Regions from separate parts of the Homo sapiens genome. Here region 2 is linked to region 1. Evidence: fine-mapped expression QTL. A gene starts in region 1. The other region holds a variant in brackets. All regions are shown on one strand. Distances are from middle to middle. Region 1 holds the start of REC8 (REC8 meiotic recombination protein). Region 2 holds the start of TM9SF1 (transmembrane 9 superfamily member 1).

Region 1 (4,382 bases):
TTCGAGACCAGCCTGGCCGATAAGGCGAAACCCTAAAAAAATTGGGCCGGGCTCTGTGGCTCATGTCTGTAATCCCAGCACTTCAGGAGGAGGAGACAGGCAGATCATGAGGTCAGGGGTTCGAAACCAGCCTGGCCAGCATGGTGAAACCCTGTCTCAACTAAAAATACAAAATCAGTTGGGCATGGTGGCAAATGCCTGTAGTCCCAGCTACTCGGGAGGCTGAGGCAGGAGAATTGCTTGAACCGGGGAGGCAGAGGTTGCAGTAAGCTGAGATCGTGCCACTGCACTCCAGCCTGGGCCACAGAGCAAGATCCTGTCTCAAAAATAATAATAATAATAGTAATAAAATAAAAAAAGAAATAAATGGGGCATGGAGAGCCCCAAATGCTAGTAATCTGTTTGCAGCAGGAGCCACTGTTCAAATGGGGAACCAAGGAAGGGGGTGACATTAAGCTGTAGGAGTATTGGGAATAGATGGAGGAGGACAGGGGTAAGAAAGCCCAGTGCAGAGAGATGAGAGCCTGGATTAGGGCCTTGGCAGTGAAAACAGTGTGGAGACAAGTGGGGACAAGAGCTGCCTCCAGTGGGGAAACCGTCTGATCAGATTGGCCCTGAGTAGGTAAGTACAGGGGGCTTCGCCTGGATGGGTCCACCTTGGCAGTCCCCCTGCACCATCTCCTGTGGGAGAGAGCTGTGGTAAGCTTCCTTCCCCAACCCCAATGTCAGAGTGACACAGGGACAGCACTCCCCTTCTGCATTGCCAATTCACGAGTCTTGGGGAATGAGCCCTACCTGAGGGATATCGAAAGGACTAGGAAGTCTGGGATCCACAGACATCATCCCAAAAAAGGGATCTGGAGCATCTTCTAGGGTCTCCATCATGGCCAGGTGGTTAGGAAGCAGCAGGCTGGGTCTGGGAGAGAATGTAGGCCGTGAAGGACTGAGGCTGAGCCAGGCTGAGGCCAAGCTAGCAGGTGTTCCATCAAAGGCCCAGGGCACACTCACAGCTCAGTCTCCATATCTATTCGGATCTGCAGCTGGGCACGGTGGAGGCGCTCCAAGATGTGCTGGATGTCCTCTGTGGGCAGGGAGGACGAGGTAGACAGCCAGCTTAGCAGACAGCTGCTCAGCCCGCCCCACCTTTGAGGGTTCCCAGCCTTACCCACGAGGTACTGGCATTGTTGAGAATAGACGCGGATCACACCGATCTGAAGTTGGGCTGAGAGATAGAGGGAGAAGCGGGGCCGCGGCAGGCCGGGCTGCGGGGGTTGCACTCGTACCAGCACGTAATTGAGGATTTCCTCGCTGGGGAACAATGCGCCCTGATTACCGCTGCGTCCAGGAGTGGGCCCACAGTCTTGGCCACCCCATCCCCTAACTCACCCCCCGCACCAGGCCCTCCTTCCCTTTTCTGGGCCTTACCAGGTTTTCACCACATTCACCCTCAGGTATTCGCGCTTCACCAACCGGCTGCCGCGAGTCGCCGCCAGCCTGAAGTGGGTGGGGAAGGTGGGAGAATGGGGATGGAGGGGGAGCTGTCAGGCTGGGATCCCGGGCAGCGTCCGCCATCGCGCGCCAACGGGCCCCGCCCTTACCAGATGGTGGCAAAGCAGCCGGTGTGGCGCTGAAGCACGTTGGGATAGTAGAACATTGTCCCTCTGGTCTTTCACCCTCGATTCCACCAGATCCCCGTTCGGATCTGAGTCGGAATTCTTTAGGGCACAGAATTCCCAACACCTTGGAGAGAAGTCAGGATTTGGACTTCTCTGGTGGCAAGGTGGGTGCACCTAGAAAGCCAAGTTAATGAGGCAACGAACAATGGGCAGATACACAATTACCAGGATAACTGAGACGCAGGAGATGGGCGCCCCTCTCTGTGGACCCTCAGTGGATCCGCACGCCACGTGATGCGTCAAACTTGAGACTTCTGGGTTGGGTTCCAGGTTGGAGATGCAGAGCTCCAAGGGGACGTCCGGGCCGGAATCCAGAGCAGGTCCCGAGGGAGCACGGTGTCCTCCACAGCAGGCCTCGGTCCTCGAGCGCTGGGAGCGATGTCAGGCCCCTGGGCCTTGCACTGGCTTGGGCGGCCGCGGTGTGGCCCCGGGCCGCCTACTGCAGGACTAGATCGCACCGCGGGAAGCGAGCGCTTCGGGGCACCGCACCTCGCTCCTCATTAGATGGCGGCTTTTGCCCTGACAGCCAATGGGGAACGGGGGTCGGGTCGGGAACGCCAAGTATCCTGGCAACAGGGTCTCCCGAGGCAGCCAGCAAACCAATCATAAGGATTTTGCGCGCCGCTGGGGTCCATTGTGAGGTGTTCCGACCAATGGGCTCCGGTTCTCGCCTCTAGTAACAGGCGCCCCTTCCTTGACCAATGAGCGCATCCCCGTCGCTCCCCCGCCGCTCCCCCGCCGCAAGCCTGGCAACAAGGGCGCCTCAATTGGTAGGGGAGGTCGGGTCACCTCGGGGGCAACTGTACTGGGCCTCTTCCGGGTGCCAAGATGTACCTTGCACGGCGCCTGACCTGAGGTTAGACCCCGCCCTTCCCCCAATCCACAAACTCCGACTTTGTTTCCAACTAGGGCGTGTCGTGTGCTGCAGAGGAAGAAAGATGTGAGATGAGGCCGGGCGCAGTGGCTCACGCCTGTAATCCTAGCACTTTGGGAGGCCGAGGCGGGCGGATCATGAGGTTAGGAGTTCGAGTCCAGCCTGACCAATATGGTGAAACCCCGTCTCTATTAAAAATGCAAAAGTTAGCTGGGCGTGGTGGCACGCGCCTGTAATCCCAGCTACTCAGGAGGCTGAGGCAGGAGAATGCTTGAACCTGGGAGGCGGAGGTTGCAGTGAGCCGAGATCATGCAGCTCCACTCCAACCTGGGCAAGGGAGCAAGACTCCGTCTCAAAAAAAAAAAAAAAAAAAAAGGCTGTGAGATGATGGCCTTGGAGCCACCACAGGTCAATGAGGAAGAAGTCCATTTTTTTTTTTTTTGATGGCCTTGGAGCCACCACAGGTCAATGAGGAAGAAGTCCATTTTTTTTTTTTTTTTTTGAGATGGAGGCTCTCACTGTTGCCCAGGCTGGAATGCAGTGGCGCTATCTCGGCAATCTCGGCTCACTGCATCCTCTGCCCCCCATCCCCTCAGGTTCAAGCGATTCTCGTGTCTTGGCCTCCTGAGTAGCTGGGATTACAGGCGCCCTCCATCACACCCAACTAATTTTTGCATTTTTAGAAGAGACGGGATTTCACTATGTTGGCCAGGCTGGTTTCTTTTTTTTTTGAGATGGAGTTTCACTCTGTCACCCAGGCTGGAGTGCAGTGGCGCAGTCTCAGCTCATTGCAGCCTCCGCCTCCCCGGTGCAGGGGATTCTCCTGCCTCAGGCTCCCGAGTAGCTGGGATTACAGGCGCCCACCACCACACCTGGCTAAATTTTGTATTTTTTAGTAGAGACAGGGGTTTCACCATGTTGGCCAGGCTGGTCTCGAACTCCTGACCTCAGGTGATCCGCCCGCCTTGGCCTCCCAAAGTGCTGGGATTACAGGCGTGAGCCACTGCCCCCAGCTGAAGAAGTCAATCTTACACGAAACTCCGAAAGGACTTACTGGGGTCACTTCCTAAATCTGAACAACTTAGGTTATGGGCACGCCACGTGTGGTCCTTTCCCAGCTGTCAGTGTTCTCCCGGCTGAAATAGACTTTAGCATTTTTGGATGCAGCACAACTTCCTAGCCTGGAAAAGCCATATTCTCAACAATTATTGTGTAAATTTAAGAGGTACAGTTGTAATAATAACCCTTGTCCCTATGCCTCCTACCTTTGCACAGCCATTTCTTTGGCCTAGAATGTCCTTCTCTGCCTTGACTCCAGAGCATGCTTCTTCCTGAGACTTATATCTTACTGCAGCTGAGCTGACCCTATCTTCTTACAGTCCCCTTCAATTTGAGAGTTTTTTTTTTTTTTTTTTTTTTTTTTTTCTGAGATGGAATTTTGCTTGTCGCCCAGGCTGGAGTGCAATGGACCATCTTGGCTCAGTGCAACCTCCGCCTCCTGGGTTCAAGCAATTCTCCTACCTAAGCCTCCTGAGTAGCTGGGACTACAGGCATGTGCCACTATGCCTGGCTAATTTTTTTGTATTTTTAGTAGAGACAGGGTTTCAACCATGTTGGCCAGGCTGGTCTCAAACTCCTGACCTCAGGTGACACCCGCCTCGGCCTCTCAAATTACATGCCTATAGTCACAGCTACTCAGAAGGCTGAGACAGGAGGATCGATTGAGCCGAAGGTCGAGGCTGCAGTGAGCCATGATTGCACTGCTGTGCTCCAGCATGGGCGATTCTGTCAAAAAAAAAAAAAAAAAGAAAGAAAGAAAAAAAGAAATACAT
Region 2 (4,382 bases), 22 kb before region 1:
CTGTGCTTCTTCCCCTGGGGAGAGAGAAGCTTAAGTCCACTTCCTTACACGTTGCTCCCAGGTGGCAAAACAGAAGTCACTGCTCAAAGGTCCGATTTTCAAGGGGAACTCCCTAGACGGCAGATCCCCTTTAAAACAGCTGAGACAAACACAAGGGTAAACTTTTTCAAAATAATCTGCCATACAAAGTGAAGAGAAGCCCAAAGACATACACAGTGATAAATAAGAACAAAAACATAGACTAACGGACCTCGAGATACTTTACCGTCAATTAACAATAACCATGTTAGGCTGCCCAACTCACAGAGTCAAAGGACAGACCTCTCTCCTTGCGCGCCTCTGCGCCAAACCGGGTTTCGGCTTGCTTATCGTGGGCTCTGAACGGTCACTGTGCGGCCAGGGAAGTCTCCAGCACAGCCTCGGGAAGACATTCCTATTACATATTTATCACTTTGGCGCTGGCCATTCGTGACAGGTGGGAGACGAGTGAGGTGAGATTCAGATGTTGGGACCCTTGCATGGGACAGATGCCCAAAGCTTCGCCCCTTCCCCGGTTTGGGGGCCACGAACCGCCTCTCAGGGCTCAGCCTCAGCAGCAGGTGGTTCAGCCGGAAAGTGCTTCGAACCCAGACGCCGCCTGCGCTCCATCTCCCCGGCCCTCGCTAGTCCCGTCCCGCGGGGACAGCTCTCGGGCCTCGGCCAGCGCGAGCCTCCTGGCCAAGAGCTCTCAAACCCCAAATCTTTCCAGGAGCAAGCGAGCGGCCTAGCAGCCACTCCTCTCCCGAAGGGGTGTCAGGGTCCTCGCTGCCAGGCCTCAGCCCCCTCCCCGGGAAGCCGTCGCGAAGGAGTCCCCAGGGGCCGCAGCAGCGAAGGCCCTCTGCGTTCCAGGCAAGGAGCTTTCCGCCAGGCTGAGGTCGCCGCCGGTGAGGGCGGAAGTGGTAAGACTGACGTGTCCTGGGCCGCGCTGCCGATCGCCGGGAGGACCCCCGCCTCGCCGAAGACGGGCGGGGCAAGCCGAGCCTCACGGGGTCCCCGGAGCTGGGCCGGGCCTCCAGATGGAGAAGGCGCAACGGGGAGTTCTTGAGTAAGCCAGAGCGGTGTCCAGCGCGGTGTAGCCGCAGCCGCCGCTGTCAGGCGCAGCAACGGGCAACCCCGTAGAAGTCGGTCGGCAGGTCCTCTCCAACCCGCCGCTACCGCGCCGCTGTGGGAGAGACCCCAGCAGGAGCCCAAAGGCAGCTACGGGGGCGCGAAGGCCGCTGGCGCCGCCTCGGCCAGCCCTTCCCGCGCGGTGAGGACCCCGGGGCTGTGGCGGGAAGGGACCCGAGGTGCGAGACCGAGCGGCGTTGCCATGGAAACGGGCCAGGGCGCGTAGTAGAGGCCCCGGGCCAGACGGGCTGCGGGTGGGGTGAACCCCAGGTTGGGAGGATGAGAGAGCAGAGGTGGAGCGGGGTCTTTGGGATAGAGAGACGTGGGGTAGGGTGAGGCGGGGAGGGGGCCAATGGGAGCAAGTGGAGCCAGGGGACCTCAGTTCGAGGCACCTGACCTGGGGTTTCTGTAACCTCCCTGGTTTCTATAACCTCAGGATTCCCCCAAACAGGTTCCACTGCCTTAAGGATGACAGTCGTAGGGAACCCTCGAAGTTGGAGCTGCCAGTGGTTGCCAATCCTGATACTGTTGCTGGGCACAGGCCATGGGCCAGGGGTGGAAGGCGTGACACACTACAAGGCCGGCGACCCTGTTATTCTGTATGTCAACAAAGTGGGACCCTACCATAACCCTCAGGAAACTTACCACTACTATCAGCTTCCAGTCTGCTGCCCTGAGAAGATACGTCACAAAAGCCTTAGCCTGGGTGAAGTGCTGGATGGGGACCGAATGGCTGAGTCTTTGTATGAGATCCGCTTTCGGGAAAACGTGGAGAAGAGAATTCTGTGCCACATGCAGCTCAGTTCTGCACAGGTCAGCCTCTCCACATTGGCTATCACGTAGCCCTCCTTCCCAGAGACTAACAGTGCCTTACATTTATGGTTCAGGGTACCTTTATGGAAATTGTCTGATTTGATTCTAACTACAATACAACCCAGTGTGGCAGGCAGGTTAGGTGATGCTATTCTAATTCAGTTGACTAAGATACATACTTGCTCAGAAGTTACTTTTTTCAAGATTACATGGACAGTGATTTGCAGAACTGATATCAGAGCCCAGGGTTTCTTACTGCAAGCTTCTCTGTTGGTCATGAGGTCCCAACTATCAGTCCCACATAGTTCTGTTTCCTTCCATGCCTACCTCTTGGCTGTTTCTTAGCTGTTTCCTGTAGTCTCTACCTAAACTTCCCTGTCATGCTTTTTCTTTAGTGAATCCTGGTACTTCTCCT[TA/A]GTCCACTCCAGACCTCCTTATACCTCACCGCTCTCCTTTTTCTAGGCCTTAACCCTGTCAAGCCATACTTGCTCTTTTTTGGAGAATCTCAACATACTAGAGTCTAACCCAGTGATTGTCAACAGGGAACAGTTTTGTCCCCCAAGGGACATTTAGCAATGTCTGGAGACATTTTTTGTTGTTACAGCTGGGGGGGTACTACCAGCATAGAATGGGAAGAGGCCAGGAAAGCTACATCCTACAGTGCACGGGATAACCCCACTATGACAAAGAATTATCCAACCCAGGCTGGGTGTGGTGGCTCACTCCTGTAATCCCAGCACTTTTTTTTTTTTTTTGAGACAGAGTCTTGCTCTGTCGCCCAGGCTGGAGTGCCGTGGCGCAATCTCGGCTCACTGCAAGCTCCACCTCCCGGGTTCACGCCATTCTCCTGCCTCAGCCTCCCGAGTAGCTGGGACTACAGGCGCCCGCCACCACGCCCAGCTAATTTTTTGTATTTTTAGTAGAGACGGGGTTTCACCGTGTTAGCCAGGATGGTCTCGATCTCCTGACCTCGTGATCTGCCCGCCTCGGCCTCCCAAAGTGTTGGGATTACAGGCATGAGCCTCCGCACCCGACCAATCCCAGCACTTTGGGAGGCCGAGGCAGGCAGATCATGAGGTCAGGAATTTGAGACTAGCCTGGCCAACATGGTGAAACCCTGTCTCTACTAAAAATACAAAAATTAGCTGGGTGTGGTGGTGGGCGCCTGTAATCCCAGCTACTCGGGAGGCTGAGGCAGGAGAATTGCTTGAACCCAGGAGGCAGAAGTTGCAGTAAGCCGAGATCGCACCACTGCACTCCAGCCTGGGTGACAGAGCAAGACTCCATCTCGAAAAAAAAGAATTATCCACCCCAAAATATCAGTAGTGCTGAAGGTGAGAAACTTTGCTGTAACTCTGCGCCTGGGGAGATCTTGTGTGACCAACTCCTGACTTGCTCTTTATAGGTGGAGCAGCTGCGCCAGGCCATTGAAGAACTGTACTACTTTGAATTTGTGGTAGATGACTTGCCAATCCGGGGCTTTGTGGGCTACATGGAGGAGAGTGGTTTCCTGCCACACAGCCACAAGATAGGACTCTGGACCCATTTGGACTTCCACCTAGAATTCCATGGAGACCGAATTATATTTGCCAATGTTTCAGTGCGGGACGTCAAGCCCCACAGCTTGGATGGGTTACGACCTGACGAGTTCCTAGGCCTTACCCACACTTATAGCGTGCGCTGGTCTGAGACTTCAGTGGAGCGTCGGAGTGACAGGCGCCGTGGTGACGATGGTGGTTTCTTTCCTCGAACACTGGAAATCCATTGGTTGTCCATCATCAACTCCATGGTGCTTGTGTTTTTACTGGTGGGTTTTGTGGCTGTCATTCTAATGCGTGTGCTTCGGAATGACCTGGCTCGGTACAACTTAGATGAGGAGACCACCTCTGCAGGTTCTGGTGATGACTTTGACCAGGGTGACAATGGCTGGAAAATTATCCATACAGATGTCTTCCGCTTCCCCCCATACCGTGGTCTGCTCTGTGCTGTGCTTGGCGTGGGTGCCCAGTTCCTGGCCCTTGGCACTGGTGAGGTGATAAAAATGAATTGGGGATTTATCTCATGGGATAGAACTAGGTAGGGAGTTTGTTCAGAAAAGGTCTGTGGATCTTCTCTTCTATCCAGAGGGGCAGACCTAAGGGATAGGGTGGCTCTAGCAAGAATGCACGTATTCTATTGTAGATTTTCTGGATAGCAAAACTGGGGGAGATTGTTTTGCTGGAGGCCCTGGGTCTGGGAGAAGGGGGGCTGATTCCTCTGAAATTGCTAGAAGAGACACAGGTGAGGCCTAACTTGGGCTTTCCGCTACCGTCCTGCAGGCATTATTGTCATGGCACTGCTGGGCATGTTCAATGTGCACCGTCATGGGGCCATTAACTCAGCAGCCATCTTGTTGTATGCCCTGACCTGCTGCATCTCTGGCT

The links. PIP is the estimated chance that this variant, and not a neighbour inherited with it, causes the effect.
Region 2: its variant is the best candidate, but not a certain one, in a credible set for the expression of REC8 in blood mononuclear cells (TOPMed, PIP 0.50).

What each region holds. Positions count from the first base shown.
Region 1 is chr14:24,169,825-24,174,206 of GRCh38, reverse strand. It overlaps REC8 (REC8 meiotic recombination protein), which reads right to left and starts at 2,127. Exons shown (of 19, transcript NM_001048205.2): 1 at 1,599-2,127; 2 at 1,426-1,494; 3 at 1,166-1,308; 4 at 1,009-1,081; 5 at 796-916. The coding sequence starts at 1,654. RefSeq lists enhancers at 1,897-2,146, 2,215-2,715 and a silencer at 2,317-2,366.
Region 2 is chr14:24,192,252-24,196,633 of GRCh38, reverse strand. It overlaps TM9SF1 (transmembrane 9 superfamily member 1), which reads left to right and starts at 1,193. Exons shown (of 6, transcript NM_006405.7): 1 at 1,193-1,288; 2 at 1,598-1,959; 3 at 3,365-3,986; 4 at 4,278-4,382. The coding sequence starts at 1,615. RefSeq lists enhancers at 295-534, 785-844, 914-1,613 and silencers at 1,045-1,104, 1,245-1,424. The variant TA/A (reference allele first, on the strand shown) is at 2,375.